2 separate regions of the Homo sapiens genome follow, and region 2 is linked to region 1. The links come from fine-mapping of genetic effects on gene expression. A gene starts in region 1. The other region holds a variant in brackets. All regions are shown on one strand. Distances are from middle to middle.

What was found.
Region 2: its variant is fine-mapped to the expression of TSPOAP1-AS1 in whole blood (INTERVAL, PIP above 0.99).

The regions. Positions count from the first base shown.
Region 1 is chr17:58,320,953-58,330,494 of GRCh38, forward strand. TSPOAP1-AS1 (TSPOAP1, SUPT4H1 and RNF43 antisense RNA 1) reads left to right here and starts at 4,498. Exons shown (of 5, transcript NR_038410.1): 1 at 4,498-4,776; 2 at 7,098-7,169. It overlaps TSPOAP1 (TSPO associated protein 1), which reads right to left and starts at 7,843. Exons shown (of 32, transcript NM_004758.4): 1 at 6,636-7,843; 2 at 5,731-5,838; 3 at 5,341-5,469; 4 at 4,582-4,761; 5 at 3,859-4,050; 6 at 2,516-2,593; 7 at 2,346-2,429; 8 at 1,998-2,087; 9 at 1,702-1,824; 10 at 1,356-1,460. The coding sequence starts at 6,968. RefSeq lists silencers at 3,396-3,645, 3,766-3,835, 3,876-3,965, 6,226-6,285, 6,896-7,005 and enhancers at 4,103-4,651, 6,686-6,845, 7,716-7,785, 8,316-8,485, 8,586-8,665.
Region 2 is chr17:58,309,445-58,318,986 of GRCh38, forward strand. TSPOAP1 (TSPO associated protein 1) reads right to left here. Exons shown (of 32, transcript NM_004758.4): 14 at 8,836-9,008; 15 at 6,981-7,096; 16 at 6,579-6,688; 17 at 2,448-3,278; 18 at 2,127-2,278; 19 at 1,392-1,769; 20 at 1,068-1,307; 21 at 523-714. Among named protein-coding and RNA genes, the nearest start is that of TSPOAP1-AS1, 11 kb to the right of the region's middle. RefSeq lists enhancers at 91-790, 2,692-3,310. The variant C/CA (reference allele first, on the strand shown) is at 4,163.

The sequences.
Region 1 (9,542 bases):
CCCAGTGCTGGGCCCAGTTTATATTGTCTACTCTCTTCCTAGGGCTCCCATCTACTCATACAACTAAACACACTGGTGGCTCCAAATATCTCCAAGACCAACTTACCCATAACCCCAGGCTCATGTATCCAAGTGCCTGTGGACAGCTCCCCTTGAATGTTTAACGCGCAGCTCAGACATGGCCCAAATGGAACTCAGCACTCGGGATGACCTACCTCTCAGATCTGCTGCCCCTTCATCCTTCACCTCACGGAGTATGAAGAGCCCCACCCTCCACCAAGGTTTATACAGCAAATGGCTGTCAGAGAAGGGATTCAACTGGAATCCCACGGGGATCCTTGTCAATTCTTTTTTTTTTTTTTTGAGATGGAGTCTCGCTCTGTCGCCCAGGCTGGAGTGCAATGGTACGATCTCAGCTCACTGCAAGCTCTGCCTCCCGGGTTCAAACAATTCTCCTGCCTCAGCCTCCTGAGTAGCTGGGACTACAGGGGCCCGCCACCATGTCAGGTTAATTTTTGTATTTTTGGTAGAGACGGGGATTCACCATATTGGCCAGGCTGGCCTCGAACTCCTGACCTCAACTGATCCACCCACCTTGGCCTCCCAAAGTGCTGGGATGACAGGCATGAGCCACCATGCCCGGCCAGAACCTTGTCAGTTCTATCTCTAAAACATAACTCAAACCCAGGCACTTGTCTCCCGTTCCACTGCATGCATCTCTGTCCAGACAGCCACCATCTCCCTCCCAGGCCACCGCCCAGGCCCTGCTCCACGCCTGCTCCCACAGTCCACCCTCCATAATACCAGCCATGTGATCCTGTAAAATTATGACTCAGATCATGTCACTCCCCCACTTAGGATCTTTCAGGAGCTTCTATCTACTCACAGAGCAAAATACCCAAACTCTTCCCATGGCCGTTAAGGCCCGACAGGATCGGGTTCTTGTCTACTCCCACCACGCTGCCCATCCCTTGCTGTATTCTAGCCACATTGGTCTCAGGCTTCTTCAGCTCTTCCCTGCCACAGAGCATGTGCATGTCTACACCTCCTGGCTGGCAAGGTCAATTGTCACCTCCTCAGGGAGGCCTTCCCTGATGACCTCTAAAGTGGCTCCTCACCCCATCCCAGTCACTTTGTCACATCACCCTGTTCTTCTCCACCACTGTGCTCATCAGTGTCTGAAATCAGCTCACTCCTGGATGCTAATTTGCTGACTGCTCAGGGACCTGGTCTTTGTTCCCCACAGTCTCCCCGACGCCTAGCACAGTGCCGGGCACACAGTAAATGCTTGTGGAATGAGTGAGTGGCAAAGCTGGTGTCCAGCAGCCTGCCAGCTTCCCTCACTGCCGCCCCACCTGCTGCAGTCTCCGGACCTCCTCCTGCTTCTCCCGTAGGCTGAGCCGAGCCTGTTCATGCTCCACCTCCAGCTGCTGCCGCCGCTGGGCCACCTCCCGCATGTGCTGAAACACAAGATCTGAGTCAAGGCCAGAGCCCCTACTTGGCCATTTCTAGAGAAGATCTAAGATGAGGAAGCCTCAAACACCATTTGCTCCAGATTCCTCTATTACAAAGGAAACTGAGCCTGGAGCAGCTCCAGGCCCAGGCCTCAGAGCTAGTGCCCCTCACTAAGAATATTCTGCTGTCCCACTTGCTCCCCATGCCAGGGCCCAGCACCCTCTCCCACCTGCACCATCTCCTCACCTTCAGCACTTGCTCCAGGCTCTCCAGCTTGCTCTGCAGGCCCTGGCTCTTGCGAAGGGCTGAGTCCCTCTCCTGTGTCACCCCCAGGAGCTGGCCCCTCAGCTCCGCATTCTCCCACTCCACCTGGCGAGGGGGCAGTGACAGGGAGTTGGGTGGGTGAGCCTTGACCCACCAGCACCCTCACAGGGGGAACAGTACCCTACCCCTGCTCAGGGGTGGAGGAGAAAGCCCCTTGGCTGGGGACCGGGGCAGTGGTGGGAGCACAGGTCTCCACAGCACCTGGGCGGAAGTGGTACCTGCTCCTTCTCTGTGGCTCTCCCACTGAGCCGGGAGTTCTCCTCCACCAGGCGGGCATTCTCATTCTGCGCTTGTCTCAGCTGCAGTTCCTGAGCGGGCAGAGGAGCTCTCAGGAGGGAGCCCAGCACCCACATTCCCCCTCTCCCCACACAGAGGACCCTGCCCTCCTCCCAGGCAAGGCCTTCCTCCCCTGCTGGAACCTGCACCAGCCAGGAAAGGAAAGGAGCAGGAGGGAAAATGTGTTCTTGAGGGCAGCAGGGGTGGGAGCAGAGCTGAGAGGGAGCCCACCACCTGGCTGGCCGGGGTGAAGGGAGGAGCTGGCCTCTGGGTTGCCCTCAAGAGCTCACCAGCTCCTCACATCGCCTCTGCTTTTTCCGGGCTTCCTGCTCCAGGCTCTCGCATTTCTTCCGCTTCTTGCTGAGCTCCGATTCCTGAGGGGTCAGAACCAAGTGCTCCTCATGAGGGAAGGTACATCTGCCCACAGCAGGCTGCCTCCAGCCCTTGACCTAGGACTTACCAGCTGCTGCACCCTCTGCTCTTTCTCTGGCTCCCCTAGAATCACGGGTAGGTTGTCCGCATCCTCCTGGGGCGTGGCCTGGAAATGCCCAGGGGCAAGGGGCTGGCACCTGAGAACAGGGCCCCAGGGCAGCCTGCCCCAGCCCAGCCTGCCCAGAGCAGGTTCCCACCCCATCATTCAGCCAGCAAGAGATCCCTGCCTAGCAAGAGCAAAGAGGGGTACTGTCTGCCCACCCACCTCCCATTGTCTCCAGCTGATGTGTAAGTACAAAGGCTGCACCCCTGTGTCCTGGAGCCATAAGTGCTTTGAGATCCTGGGACCCACGTGTGCCCTGGGAGATGGGTCCTTTATCCAGGCCAAAGCTTTCCCTTTTTAGCTTCCAGCAGCAGCCCTGCTCTGCACTCAATAACTGTCCTGGGTGTCCTTCAGCGACTGGCAGAGAACTAGGAGGCTGCCTGGGCCCCCGGGGATGTGGTGTTCCCCAAGATAGGGGTTCTGTATCATCCAAATCTGGGCTTGGCCTAGAGCAGCGCAAGTCCAGCCAGACCCTTCTCCTGGCTTCCCCCAAGCCCACCCTACCACACCTTCCGATTATCCGTGCAAACTTTGGGGGAGGACAGGTCTTGATGGGAGGGTGCATCTCCCTTCCAGGGCCAGCCAGGGAGACAAAATCTGAGCAAGAAGCCTCCCCCCACCCGGAGGTCTTGGTCACTATCAGATCACTGCCTGGTCTCTCCTCCCAGCCCTCTTCCCAGAAGGAGGAGGACCTACTTGCTGCCTACCTAGGATGATGGCGAGAAGCCAGACCCTTAAGTTCTGGGGGTCCTAAGCGGGTCCCTGGCCCTCGAGACAGGGGCTGCCTAAGCCCCCCGCTCAGTGAGGGTTGCCTGTACCTGGAGCCGGGGCGGACGCACCGCCGCCCCCGGGTAGCTGGGGCCAGGCCTGGCCAGCCAGGCGGGCGCTGACGGGGGCGTCCCCGCTCTACGGCGGCGGCGGGAGGAGGCGGCGCGGGCTGGGCCCCGGGCGGCTGCCAGGACAACCAGGGATTTGCGGCCGGGCCGTACCACTGGCAGCGCGGCAGGGGCGGCCGGCCAGGCCCCGCTGGGCGCAGGCCTATGGAGGGCGGAACCCTGGAGCCCCCAGGGGAGGGCACGGCGCAGGTACGAGCACGGGAGGCTTGGAGGTGGACCCTGCCCAGGACGGGAAAGCTCCCCAGCCCCTGGGAGTGCGCACACCACCACTGAGTCCTTGGGGTTCTGAGCACGGTGCAGGGGAGATCCCGGTGGTCGTTCCCCCCACCCATCTGCACGCACCCACACACCTGCCCTTGCGCCGGCGCTCACCTCTCCCGGGGCCCCGGGAGCAGGCGCCCCTGCTCTGGCCTGGAGAGCAGGGCCCGGGGGCCAGGACGGCGGGAGCGGGAGCGTCTCCCGCTGGTTGCGCAGCGCGATCTGCCTCTGCAGCCGCAGCACCTCCCGCTGGGACTCGCGCAGCAGCCGATCGAAGTCCCGCACGTGGAGCCACTGGGGACCCTCCTGAGGTTGGGGGACAGGGACAGGGAGGGGACTCAGGCCTAATCCTTGCCCGCCCCATGCCATCCCCTGCAGAGCCCTTCGCCTTGCTGGAGGGGCTCCGATGCGCGAGACTGTGCACACCCTCCCATGGGTACATGCCTGGTTACATGTGCATGCGTATGTGGCCACATGCTCCCGCGAGCCCCTATGCGGTCATTCTCAGTAACTTATTTCTTGGGTGCTCTCAATGTGCCCAGCACTGTGCTAAATACCTTGTGAACATCCCTTCACACAGGGGATGTGTGGATGCATACAGCCAGACCCACCGGCAAACAGCCTCAAGCCTGGAGCACAGAAATGCCCAGGTCTGGGACTCATGGCTCCACCCCCTTCTCCCCTCTCCCACCTGGGCCGTTGCCAGGGGAACCTACTCCCAGCAACCTCCACCCTCCCTTTCATTTGCGTCTCATTAACATCTTGTCTGCATCCCACAACAGGCAGATGGCCCTGTGCAGGGCTGAGCTGGAAGAGGTGACCAGGGCCTCCTCGCACCTTGCCCACCAGAGTGAGCCTGGCCTGCAGCTCCCTGCACTCCCGCTGCAAGGCAGCAATCTGCTTGTCCTTGGCCAGCAGTGCACTGGCTGTCTCACTGAGGTCCCGGGCTCGCTGGCGGGCTAGGGCCTTCCGACACAACTCCAAGCTGGTCCCCGGCCGGGGCAAGGGGGCACTCACCTAGCCAGAGGAGGGGTAAGGCCAATGGTCACCTGAGGGCTGGGGCACTTCTCCCACTCCTCATCTCCTCCCAAAGGAGGAGTTAGCATGAAAACCTAGGGGGGTAGCCACCTGCTTCCACCTTGACTGGGGTCTCAGAAAACCAGCAGCCTCACTCTACCCCATCCCAGCAGTTGGAAAGGATTAACTCTACATCTGAGTTTAGGATCAAAGGATGCTGCTAATTTGGGGCTGCCACTGTGATGGGTCTCATCCCTGCCCCCACTCCAGCTCTATACCCTGAGATGAGCTCAGCAGAAGGCTGCCGCCAGCACCAGCACGTGGTAATCCAGAATCCTGCTCCCTGCCTGCTCAGGAACCTCCCCATCCAGCTCTTCTCTGCCCCCTGCAGCTCCAGAAACCTTTGGCCTCCTTGCCTGGCCAGCCTCTGCCCTTCCTGCACCTTAGCCCCTAGATTCTTGCTTTCCTAGGTGCTGAGCTGAGACCGTGACTCCCAAGCTTCAGACAGCCCTCAGGCCCAGCCCTGGCTCCCCTCTTCCTTGGTCACCCAGCCTCCGCCCAGCAGCCTCCTTTCCTCACCACCCTCAGGTTCGTTTCCTGCAGCTTTCGGGCCCTCTCCTCCAGGCGCTTGGCAATGACCGCCAGCTCGGCGTTCTTCCTCTTCAGCCTCCGCACCTTCTCTTCTGTCTCAGGGAAGCTGCTCTTCCTCTGACAAGGGGTCAGGCAGAATTGGGGCATGTAGGGAGCACCCCACAGACCCAGTCCTAACAGCCCAAGTCTTGGGCTAGAGCCCTAGGCTCACAGTGGGGTCCTTGGCAACTCTAGGCAGGGGTTCACCCTCTCTGGGTCTCAGGATTTTGTCACCTCCATTGAGCCCCCACTTGGAAAGATGTTCATGGGGTGAGGAGGGCACTGAGGCAGAGGGCCTGGCTCCAGCCAGAACGCAGCACCCCAGTCTCCAAGCCTCACCAGCATCTGGTTTTCCTCCTTAAGGATGGCACAGCGCTGCCGCAGCTCCCCCAGGGCCCTCAGCAGCTCCAGATTGGGCCTGTCCCCAAAGCTCATATTCAGCTTGGCCTGGCATGGGAAAGGACCGAGGACAGCACCTCAGAAACCCACGTCACCCAGCCAGAGCCTTCCCTGTGGAAGCATCCACCATCCATGGTCCAAGGAGACATGGAGATGAAACGGTTTCCCCTATGTCCCAGGCCTTCAGAGAGGAGCAGAGGAGGCCTAGGAGAAGGAACTGTCCAGTCCTCCCTGTCCACATAGACACCCCCAAACCTGGCACCCTCCTGCTCCTCCCTGATCCTTCCCATTCCTACCCATCTTCTCCTCCAGGGACATGCGAGCTCGAGCTCCCACTCCCATCCCTCCAGACTCCCCTGCCCTCCCCCAAAGTCCTGTTCCTTCCCTCTTCTACAGGAGCCTGCTCACACCCACCCCAACCCTGCCTCAGCCCAGCACCAAGCCCCCTCCCCTCAATCTACTTCCTCTGCACTGATTCTCTGTGCACCTCCACACTCCCCCTGTATCCCCCAGCCCCTAAGGACAGACAGACTCATGGAAGAAGAGACACAGACAGACACACTGTCAGGAGGAGGCACAGAGAGGGACGGGGCAGCAGCAGGGCCAGATCTAGACAGACAGGCAAAGAGGGTCAGAAGGACAGACAAATGACGAAAGAAATGGAGCCCCTCAGATTTCTGCTCGATGAAGAGAGGACAGATAGCCACAGAGATGGACCCACAGACAGGCCAAGAGAGGACAGGTGGGCATTGGGGATGCATACCTCGCCTCACCTCCTGGCCAGGCTGGAGGACATGGTGAGAGACCCCCACCTTGCAGACCCCAGCCCTCCACAGATCCCTTACCTTCAGGAAAGCCTCCACTTCCTCATCCTCTGGCCTCTGGCAGGCGGGTCCAGAGCTGGATGCTTGCTGGCCCAGGCTGGGCAGACAAGCCTCTGCTCCTTCAGGGTCAGTTCCCCCCACGGGCCTGGAGCTCCCGTCTCCTTTGGGCTTGGAACTCTCCTCAGACCTCAGTTCTTGAAGCTGCAGAGCTGCCGGAGGAGTATCAGCGATGCTTGGGGCTGCACTGCTAGGTTCACCCCCTCGACCTGGAGTCCAGCTATGCCAGGTGGGCAGTGCCCATGGCTCCATGGCTCCAGGGTCCCCAGGCCGTGGGAGGGTTGTCAGTTGCTCCATGGTACTGCCAAGGGGCCCCAGAACCCGGGCCGGGGGACATCACCCAGCCAGGTGGGGGGACTGGCGAGGGTCATGCCAGGCCAGCCCCTCTCCCCTCTGAGCTCTTGCTTCACCGACGCTCCATCCAAGGTTGGCTGAGCTCTTCCCCACCCACAAAGGAGGCTGCAGAAGGCGCCAGGGCTGCTGGAGCTGGAGCCAGGGGTATGTGAGCTATGTTTGCTGGTAGCTGTGTGTGTGCGCGAGTATGTGGAGGAGCGAGGGTGTCCCTGTGGGGGTAGGGAGGATGTGCAGAGGCCACCGACAGCTGCGCCTGGGTGAGGGTGCGTGTGTGTGTCTCCAGGTCTGTCCGTGCAGGTCAATGCTGTCTCATGTGTTGGGAAGATGGGTGCCCCCACTTCTGTGTGTTGAGGGGGGTGGTGCTGTGTGTCACTGTCTGCCCATTTCAGAGTTGCCAGTTGTTTGTGTGTGTGTGTGTGGGTGTCTGTATTGCAGGGCTGTGGCAGTATGTGATGCTGTCCCTGGTTGTATCTGAGTGTGTCAGTGTCGTGCAGCTGTGTGCATCGGTGTCGTTGTGTGTCTGTCAGTGTCTGTGGGTCTGGCCGTCTGTCGCAACCCCTCAGCCCGGCCAGAGGCTTCAGGAGCTGCTGGGGGTGATCCCCAGTGGTCCGCTGTGGTCCTTTATCTCCGGCTCTGCTCTCTGCTGCTGCTCTTTCGCTTGCTGGGTGGCTGGGCTGGTCCTAAGGAGGCCTGGGTCGATGGGCTGCTTGCCTCATAGTCTCAGCCCCTGCTGGCCTCTGCTCTGGGGACTGCAGGGGTCCCTTACAGTCCAGGAGCCTCGAGATGGTGGGCTCCGAGGAGGGCTGAGCCTCAGAATTGGGTGGGGGGGTGAGCCGGGAAGAGCCAGCCCTCCCCTCCTCCTCCTCCTCCTCCCCTCCCACCCACCAATAGGAAGTCGGCTGCTGGTTTCCATGGTGATGGCGCTGGACTGGTGGGCTGAACCGGCTGACAGGGTCGGGGACAGAAGGAAGAGCAGGTTTCTCACGGCATGTCAGCCCAGGGCTCCCACATGTGGCCTCCCACCCTCATCTTCACACATTCTCACACCTTCCGGAGTACAGAGGCGAGTGGGGTGCAGATGGTCCTCCCTACATCGGGTGAGACTGATAGAGACAGAACGGGGGAGGGTATGACAGAGATCCAGCCACAGAGAAGGGCAGAACTAGAAAAGATGGGACTTGAGATGAAACAAAGAGAGAGACAGAAACCAAGAGAAAGAAACCGGGAAGACAAGCAAAGAGACAGGTAGAAATAGACGGAGAATTCCTTCTGCTTCCTCCTGGCAGATTGCACTTGGGGGGCAACCTGGCTGTCCCAGGCCACCAGGGAAGCCCACATGGCCTGTTGGGTTGGCTTTGTCCCGAATTGCCTGGAAGTTCATCTTCTGTCTAGCCTTAGATCTTGTTGCTAAATAATTTGGGGGACAAGGACGTGAGAATCCCCTCAGCCAGGAGTCAGTCTATATGCAGTGGCAGGGGTCTAGACAGAGTCCCCAGAGCCAGGGGTGTTGGGAGAAGCCCCGAGAGGCAGCCCCTCTCCACTCTGAACCCGGGACTCATTAGGCAAGCCAGTTTCAGCCAAGGTCGGGGGCCCTCGTGTGGCACCCCCACAGAATAGCAGCGGTGATACTGAACCCTAGAGCCCCTGACTGTGGGCTCCACCCAGGCAAGAGCCAATGGAACTGGAGGTAGGGGGTGCATGGGGAGGAGTGGACATCTTCACTTCCCTAAAGCAGTGTGTAGGTCAACACGCACGCCACTGCATGATGTGTTGCTGTTTAGGTCAGAGTATATATGCATGCCATTATGCGCATGCGTGTGTATAGTATGCATCTATAGAATAGACATTATCTATTTCTGTATATGTGAAGGGGCCATTGTGTGTATATATGTGTGTGCTATTATGTGTCTATGAGTCACATAATAAAACGTAACAAAAACACATTGGGTGTATCTGTATGTATGTTTCTGTGTCATTGCATCTATGTTTGTTTGCCACTGTGTCTATGTGTGTGCTGTTATGTGCATGGGAGGCTATCATTGCATGAGTTTATAAATTACAACACATCATGATATATATAGATATGGATGCTACTATATGGCACAATGTAGTAATTGATTACACAATATATGACATGCTCATATCGTCATGTAAATATGCATAATGACATGGTTTGATTTATATATATATATCACCATGTATCTATGTATTCTATATTTATCATGATATATGAACATGTCTCTATCTATGTATGTGTATGGAGCCACCGTGTTTATTATGCAAATGTCACTGTATGTGTGTGCTCTTCTATGTGTAAGACACGCCCTATGTTTCTATCATTGCATGTGTGTACTACTGAATATGTATGTGCCCTGGGTGTGTGTAATCCCTGTGTGTGTCATGCCAGTCATGTCACATGTGTCTGTGTGTGTGTTACTGGCACACTGAATGGGGCCTCTGTGTGTAAATGCATTTGCATCTCAGTGTGTGCTTTGTATATGAGTGTCTGTGCCCTTG
Region 2 (9,542 bases), 12 kb before region 1:
AGCGAGCTGCGATCTTTGCCCTCAAACGAAGGCAGGGGTTACGGACAACCCCACAGCCCTCCCACGGCTTCCTCCGAGAGGAGAGAACCAGAGGGACGGTGGCTGGCCCAAATTCACACACATATCCAGTGAGAGCCAAAGGAAGAATTAGGGAACACACTCTAGGAACCATCACCAGCCCCTGTGGGACAGGAGCATTGAGGAGCAGGCCTCCCCATCCCCTCCCCAGAAGCTACCAGCACAAGGATCTTAGGTGGCACCGGCCTCCCCTGGCCAGGGCGCTGTATCTGGTGGGCTGGAGGGAGAGAAGGTACAGAAATGAACTCCTCCCCTTCCCCTTTCTTTCCAGGAGGGCAGGGGCCAATCCTGGGGCACTTCCTATCTTCTGCTTAGGACAGGGCCCAGGCCACAGACCTAGAATGTTTCTGGCACTCAGTGGTGGTCAGAGCACCTGCTGACACACAGTGGGGAGGCCCCGGAGTTTGAGGCCTGGGGCCCAACAGCCCATCCCTACCCCGTTACCTTGGCCCCATTCTCCCTGATGCTGTTGCCAGCAACCTGCTTCTGGAAGGAGCAAGTCCTGGAACCCAGCTCCTCTTCCTCCTCCTCCTCCTCCTCTTCCTCTTCCTCCTGGATGTCTGACAGGTCTGAGTTGCGGCCGTGGTCCACGAGGGAGTTCACCAGATGAACCCCAAGCTCTGCTGTGTCCTCCTTCTGCAAGAAGTGAGGCAAGGCAGGAGAGATAAGGACAGTGAGGGGGCACAGGGGGTTCCAGGCAGGGTCAGCCCCAGCCACAGTAACAAGGGTCCTTTGGCAGAGGGAGAAAGAGCCATGTCCTAAATGGGGGAGGCACACCATGGCTCAGGGGCAGGGTGGGAGAAGGGAGATGGGAGCCACATGGGACAGAGAAATCCTAGAAGAAAAACAGACACATAGCACAGCCAAAGGTGTGAGAGCAGGACCAGAGCAGAGGACAGGCAGAGAGGGCAACTGGATTTGCGCTGGCAAAAGGTAGGGAGACAGGCCTCAATTCTCTGAAGTGACACAGTGTGTCCCCAAACCCCTACCTCAGCCCTGGGCCTCAGCCCAGACCCTGGGTCTCCTCCTTGGCACATCTCGGTATTTGGCGCCTGCTGGGCCCGTGCTCCCTGGGTGGAGCTGGAGGCCGGACAGGCCTCTCCTGCAGTCCACTCGGCCTCCTGCTTGGCCAGTGAGGGAGCTGCGGGGCCAGGGTCCTTCTCACCCAGGGTAGATGTGCTGGCTGTCCTCTCCTCTGAGGTGCCCAGCACTGCTGCCCCAGCCTCCTCCTGGAACAGAGAGCACTGAGGAAGGACCCAAGCCCAGGTCCCTCTGCCAGCCTGCACCTGCTCCCCTCTCCCCAGACAGGGTACCTGGGAGCAAGGTGCTGGAGGGTCCTCGTGGGACCCTTTTGCCATCTCTCTGGAAGGGCTTGCAGGGGGTGCTCCTGGAGGCTCTTGAGTTCCAAGGGGAGCAGGGTGCTGGAGAGGAGAGCTGGGGTCTCCAGGCCCTGGGGAGGCTGAAGCAAGGGGCGCTCTGGCCTCTGGGCTTGGGTGCGGTGAGGGGCAGGAGACTCGGGCTGGCAGGCTGGCCGGAGCCAGGGCGGGAGTGATAGGAGCCGGGATGGAGTCCGCCGACTCCCCGTGGGGCGACATGGTGCGCACGACCACCTCACGACACACCTGCAGCAGCTGCAGCTGGGACAACTCCACCAGTACACTGCCTGCCGTGGGTGAGGCCACCTCCATGATCTGCAGGGTGGAGGGGGCACAGGATGGGAAGCAGAGGCTGAGACAGCCAAGCGTGAGGATGCACTGACAGCAGTGGCAGCTAACTGACAGCAGTGGCAGCTAGCATTACGCCAGGTACTGTGCTAAGCCCTCTGCATGGCCTATCTCATTTCATCCTCCTGGCCATATGGCTTCAGTGATGGAACAGTTCTAAAATCTGTCATGTGCTGCCAAAGCCCATGCTCTTAACCCATCTGCCTCATGGTACCCAAATGCCAGGGGCTGGGCATCTCCGTGCCAAGCCAGAGAGCCTAGACCTCTGAGCATAGCAAGAAGGGACCCACCCCCACTCCCAGGGTACAGTGGGCAGGGCTATACCTTCTGCCCATCAGCGTAGATGGCATAGCCTGTGACCCGGACACCGTTGGATGTGCCAGCAGCATCGATGGTGACTGGGAGCCAACTGATGATCAAGATCCCAGGGGAGGGCCCAGGCTCGATCTGCACATCCAGAGGGGCATCAGGTGGGCCTGGGGGCAGGGGGGCACAAGACCCAGTGATGCAGGACGCTCCCCATCAGAGATACCTGCCCAATTTGCTATTTCCCTGATAACGCAAATAAGATCAGGGTCCCCTTCTTCCGTCACCCATGGCCTGGCCTCCTGGGTGTTCTGGACAACAGGGCCCAAGCCCACATACCTGCTGGGAGTGTGGTGAACTGCAGGGTGGCAGCCCGCTGCTCCAGCCTCTCCCAGCCTGGTTCCCAGGGCCCTTGGGGTGGGAGCTGAGCCTCCACTTGGGCCTGATAGGGTGTGCCAGGCCGTAAGTGGCAGAAGGTGGCCCAGTAGGTACTGGGGCTGGCAGGTGGGCACTCTTCCCCATTGAGGTAGATGGCATGGGCCAAGTTGCTATTGCCGGGCACCCAGGTGATCTCAGCAGATGTGGCTGTCAACCGATGGACCCGCAGCTGGCTGGGCACCACTCCGGCCCGGGCACCCACCGCCAAGCAACAGCGCAGTGGGTCAGAGCTGCCCCGGCTAGTCAGGGCCTGGACAGAAATGTGAAGGGGCCCGGCCCACAGGTCCAGGTTCTCCAGCACGGCCTTGGGTGGCGCCCCAGGCCCCAGGGCCTGTCGCAGCTCCCCATTCACACAGATATGGAAGCCGTGTAGCTCCACTTGCTCAGGAGGCGGCTCCCAGGCCAGCACCACGCTGTGGGCCAGCTGCTTGAGGACCACCAGACGGCGGGGGTAAGGCACGGCAGGAGGCTCGCCCAGGCCCTCCGGTGATGGGCTCAGACTGAGCTCGTCCCCTGCATCCTCCTCCTCAGGTCTGGGCTGGCTCCTTCCCACACTGCTTTGGCCCCCGCTACTGCTGCCACCCCCACCTACACTCAGGAAACTGAGTTCAGGGCCTGAGCTGTGGGACAAATCGGCCAGCTCTGGAGGGAGGGAGGTCAGGAGGTCATCATCCGACACACGCTCTACAAAATTGGAAGGGACCAGGCCCCTTCGGCCATCCATGAGCTCTCCTGGCAGGAGGAGGACAGGAAGGGGCAGGGCAGGGGAAGACAGAGAGGAGATAAAGAAAAAACGGTATAATAAATGCATTTTAGCAACTGCTAGTGGGTGATCTTCAGCATTTGATTCAAATCAACATTTAACTGTCAATTCTTTTAAAAGACAAGAGCAGTAAAGATCTGGATTAGAGATAGGTCTGATAATAGTATTTTGGTTCTATAGGACAGTGCTTCTTCAATTTTAACTTGCATATGAATCACCTACAGATTTGTTAAAATGCAGATTCTAACTCGGTTGGGTCTGGATGGGGCTGAGATTCTGTGATTCTAATAAGCCACCAGGTGACACTCAAGCTGCAAGGATGGAGGAGAATATCATGTTCTAAGTAAGCATGTTGAGTATTTCAAGGTAAAATATCATAATGCTTTTAAAATCATGTTTAACCTACATATAAAGCAAATATGCCAAAGTTTTAACAATTGTTGAATCTAGGTGCTGGCTATATAAATATTCAAATATATTCTGTACATTTGAAAACTTTTGTGTTAAAAATTGCAATAATAATTTCATAATTTCATATTAAAGTTTTAAAAAATAAGCAGGTCAGGATAAGAAAACTGGCCAGGCATGGTGGCTTATGCCTGTAATCCCAGCACTTCAGGAGGATGAGGCAGGCAGATCGCTTGAGCCCAGGAGTTTGTGACCAATCTGGGCAACATGGCAAAACCCAATCTCTACAAAAAATGCAAAAATTAGCTGGGAGTGGTTGCACGCCTGCAGTTGCAGCTACTCAGGAGCCTGAGGTGGAAGGATTGCTTGAGCCCGGGAGGCAGAAGCTAGAAGTCATAATCGCGCCACTGCACTCCAGCCTGGGCGACAGAGCAAGATGCTGTAT[C/CA]AAAAAAAAAAAAAAAAAAATTCTGCTGGTTGGGTTTTACCTGGGCCTGAGGAATAGGGGCCAGGGTGCCCCTCAACTTCTCTTTGTGAACAGCAGACATCCACAGAGGGAGAGAGAGACAACCAACTCAGCAGGGTAAAGGAGGAATCTTTAGAGACAAATGAAGTAAGTGCTAGTGAAATAGTCACTTGTAAGTTCTAGAAGGATCAGGAGCCCCAGCAGGCCTGTGTCTAGCAGCATGATTGACAGCAGTCAATCCAGGCAACCACCAATGGTTATGTTTTGTTACCTGCATCAGTTCTCCTGAAGACTTGACAAGAGAGTATTTTAAAACATTTGCTGTTGTTTGATTGAGGGATGTCAAGGAAGCTGGGCACCCAGCATGTAATGTCACGGTCAATTTAAAGAAGAAAAAAAGGTCTCAGGAAACAGACAGCTGGTAGCTGGTGTGCTTTATTGAGAGGAAGGGGGAGCACGAGCCAGGGCTTAGGGGAGAGGGGTGAGTGTAGGCAGGTCTGAGCTGCAGGGGGGCCTGGAGTTTCCCCCAACAGTCATCTGTGCCCCTCACCTCCACCCTCTCTCTCTCTGCCTATGCTAGGCAAAAAAAAAGTAAGGAACTTGAAGAAACAAGAGGGACTGTCAATAAATTCACTGATATAATAAGCACTGTAGAGGGTTGAATGGTGGCCGCCCAAAAACATGTCCATGTTCTAATCCCCAGAACTTGTGAACATGACCTTATTTGGAAAAAGCGTCTTTGCAGATGTAATTAAGTTAAGGATCTTGAGATGAGATCATCCTAGATTATCCGGGTGGGTCCTAAATCTAATGACAAGTGTTTTTATAAGAGACATGCAGAGGAGAAACACTAAGAGGAGGAGGCAATGGTGACCACAGATAGAGACTGGAGTGAGGTGGCCATAAGCCAAGGAACAACTGGAGCCACCGTAAGCTAAAAGAGACAAGGAACGGAACCTCCCCTAGAGCCCCCAAGGGGATGCAGTTCTGCCAATACTTTGATTTCAGACTTCTGGCCTCCAGAAGAGGCCAGTGAGAGAATAAATGTCTATTGTTTCAAGCCACTCTATGGTAATTGCTCCTGCAGCCCTAGGAAACGATCATAAGCACCAGCACTGTGGAGTGGGAGACAAAGGCAGGAGTCTTCACACTAAGAGGATCTCCAGCCTGCAGGGCTGAAGCTGGAGCCTGGGCCGGAGTCAGGCACATGCTCCAGAAGCCCATGCAGCTGAGAACAGCCTAGGTGGCCCAGACATAGACGAAGCAGTCCTTTAGCTAAGGTTGGACAGGGAATACGGCATCTTGCCCCCGGTGGCATTTACATCTATCCCAATTTATCCCAGATCGCAGAGTTCAAATTCTAGTCATTTGTGGTTAGTTAATACTTATGCCTTTGCTGCCCCCTCCAAAAATAAAGTGTTTGGGTTTTGGTTTTTGATTTGGGTGGGGTTTTTTTTTCTTCATTTATAAAGTATTATTTTCCTGAAAGCTTTTTAATTCTGATCTTCATAATCTACCCCTGTAGGGAGTTTAACTGTTTAGGCCACAAAGCCAGGTACCATGGGTCTCAGCAGCTCCTCAAGTAACAGGCAGAGGACCCAGGGAAAAGAAACTGAGCAGGCTCCCAAGCTTCCAGGGTTACAGATTCAGAGCTAAGCCTGTTCCTAAATCTCTACACACAGCTGCGGCTCTCGCCCTGCCCTGTCCATGCCCCATCCAATTCTCTACACAGTGCCATCCTCTCTGCTGCTGATGGACTCAGCCTGGTGGTACCCAGGCCAGAGCCACCCTGAGAGAGTCTCCCAAGGCCATGTCTTCCGCAGGCCCATAGTGCCCAGTCTCAATGAGGCATCTGCCTTGAGTTGCCTGATCAGCCCTCTGACTCCCCACAGGAGCTGCAGAACCTCCCTGAAGCAGACACCCTGCCTGGGCCCTGACAGCTGCTAACCGCTTGAGAACACCTTCCCCTGGGATCTTTACCCTGATTCCTCCTTCGCATACCTGACTGGAGTCCAGCATCAAATCTGTGCTGCATACCTGACCTCAGGTGTCACTACTGTGAAACACTGCCACGCCCTGACTATCCACACAAAAATGAATCTAGCCAAAATCTCCTGTGACACTCTCTCCACCATCTGGACTATGCTGTCCTGTCCTGCTTGGAGCCAGACTCCCTTCTTTCTCTTTCCCCAGTGGCTACTAGGTCTCTGTATGCCTTTTAGCTGAGACCAAAAAGTTAAGGTGGGCTGAGCACGCTGGGCAGAGGGGATGGATGGATGGATGGATGGATGGATGGATGGATGGATGAATGGATGGATGGATGGATGGATATCCGTCTTTGGGAACATGGGCTCAAAGGCAGGGGAATGGACAGAATGACCCCCCACTACATTCCTACCTTCAAAAAAGCCATCCTCATCCATGTTGCCATAGATGTAGATGTACTCGCCAGCTGTCAGCGGAAGCTCTGCTTCTGGATTCTCATTGGGACCCTCAAAGGGGTTGTAGCTGTTAGGGGAGGCACAGAGGAGGAGGAGGAGAGTGACCTACACTCCACTTCCATGTCCTGTCTTCTCTCTCCCACTGCACTGAGCCTTTACGGAGACTTGGTTGTGGTTGTCCACCACCAGCAAAGCTGAGCCCTCACTGCACCCACCTTGGCCCAACTAGGTTATTAGAATAGGTCCATTGTGTCCTGTACTGCCCCCACCACTTCCAGAGGTCTCCAGCTCCACCCGGCCCCCTCCTATACCCCAAATGCTGGGGCTGGGCTAGGGGGCAGTGAGGGTGAGGGACCCACCTATAACGTGCTAGGAAGACCTGGATCCTGGCTCCTCCCCGGCTGCCCTCTGGCGCAGCTGGGAGCAGGGAGACACTGTCTGCCTCCAGCTCCTCTACCTCACTGGCTGTGTCCACCTGGGGGCAAACAGAAAGGGCTGGTTTCTCTTCAGGGCCTGGGGCCAAGCGCCAAGCAGGCAGGTTTCCAGGCTGAGCCAGAGGACCTATTGCTTTAAGGAGGGAAAATGAGCACATACATGCTGCACAGGAGCAGTGGCAAGGACCCCCTGATGCTCTCTAAATTAGTGCCTGAGAGAGCAGGTCCTGGCAGAGCCCAGCTGCCCTGGGCAGGGGCAGTGGGGATAACCCAGACCCCTCCCTGAGCCTCTACTGCACCCGCCAGGAAATAAAGCCACTTCCCTCATCTCAGAGGGGCCCAGGCCATGCTGGTGTGGGGAGTGGGTGTCAACAGAAGTTTGGTTTGGTTCCTTAAGGTAAAAACTCAGCAAAGTTGCCAGGTGCAGTGGCTCGCGCCTATAATTCCAGCACTTTGAGAGGCTGAGGAGGGCAGATTGCTTGAGCCAGGAGTTTGAGACCAGCGTGAGAAGCATAACAAAACCCCATCTCTACTAAAAATACAAAAATTAGCTGGGTGTGGTGGTGCATGCCTGTGGTCCCAGCTACTTGGGAGGCGGAGGTAGGAGGATTGCTTGAGCCCAGGAGGCAGAGGTTGCAGTGAGCTGAGATTGCGCCACTGCACTGCAGCCTGGGGGATAGAGCGAGGCCCTGTCTAAAAACAAACAAACAAACAAACAAAAACAAAGAAAAAAGAAACCCCTCAGCAAAGCACCCCAACTGTAAATCGCTGGAAGCAAGGAGGCAGAAAGGAGGCAGAAGGAGCTTGAGGGGTCCCTGCTTCTAGCCGAGTGACAGTGTGTCTGCTGTTCAGCTCTGGAACTCAGAACTTCCCGTCTACTTGCCCGGCCCACAGCCCAGGGCACCGCAACCTCAGGGCACCCCAATTCTCTGACCCTTGTTGAGGTTGCTGGGGTAGCCTGGGGAACAGGCTGTCTTCTCTTCTCTGCCAATGCCTGGGAGAAGGGGACCAAGTGGGCAACCTCTCCACAACCACATCCAAAGCTGGCACCATCCTTCTATCCCACGAGGGGGCAATAGAGGCCCAGGGCTTCGTTCTACCACTTTCTGAATGTTTGGCTCTCAGAGCTGCTTCTGACCTGCCTCCTCCACCTTCTGGGGTTTGTGGGTAGAAAGAAGGATGAGTTGACGACCAGAGCTATGAGTGATGCCCAGGAGCTTAGTAATAATAACAGCTGCCCCGTGTTGAGCACACATCCTGTGTGCCCCACACTGAGACAGGCAGGTTCCGTATTCATTTAACTCTCACAACAACCTTAGAAGGCAGGTTTTATTAGCTCCAAGATTCAGATAAGGAAACAGAAGCCCAGAAAGGCTCAGTGACTTGCCTAAGGCAAAGCTGGGATTTGAATCCTGGAACATGTGCTTTCTCATACAACCACCTGCTTTCACTACAGATGCTCTTAGGAACAGTCTCATTATGCAGATCCTGGTGCCCAAGTGTCTCCTCCATCCAGCCCAGCACTCCAGAGCCTCCCTGGGCCTCCCAGGGGTGGGCTGGGGTGGCCCCAGGTGGGGCTTGCAGGCAGGCAGTGGAGGGCAGGAAGGGCTCCACCTGAGCGCCTCGCCCACAGGAGGAATCCACAGGCCTCCCACCTCCCAACTTGGGACCCCAGAAGTTGCCACCCAACTCCTGGGGACCCCAGAAGAGGTCAGGGCCACCTGCCCTGCACCCTTCCCCAAGCCAAAGCCAGAACTTCAGGCCCCACCCCAGCAATTACCTCAGGTGTAGGGCATGACTTGGGGCTGTTGTGGATGGACTCGGAGTGGGAGGAGTTGGAGAGAGACTCTGCCTTCTTGGCTGTCCTTCGAGGGACCCCAGTGAGAGTGGCAGGGGCAGGCTCGGAAGACTTTGGGGTGCAGCGCCCAGGGGAGCCCGGCGGGAGGTCAAGGTCTAAAGAGAAGATGGCACGTGGGCTTGGGGTCTGTGGCCTGAGGAGGGACCAGGAGATAGGGTGGTGCTTCTTGGATATGGGGACCAGGCCCTCCATAGCCGGGCTTCCTTACAAAAAGGGAAATATTTAGAGAGAAACTTACTAAATAGAGGTATAGCTGATTTACAAATACTATTTCACATGATCGTCAAAACAGCTTGATGAGATGCATTTAATTATTCCTGTCTTACAGCTTACGAAACTATGGCCCAGAGAGGTTAAGCAGCATTCTCAAATCACAGTGACTGTCAAGTGAGTGGAGCTGGGACCACCGGATCCGACTGACCCCCAAGCCCCCACTCTGCACAAGGCCACACTGCCTGCTACTGACTCCTAGTGCCCAACCCCTAGGTCTGACCATTCAGGTCCTTTTGGAAGGAGAGGAGCAGTGGCCCACGATGCCTGGGCCAGACTCTGGGACAGTCACTCCCCTGGGCTTTATTTTTCCCCAACAGAACGTGGTTCTAGCCAGGCACAGCTCTAACCTGCTGTGT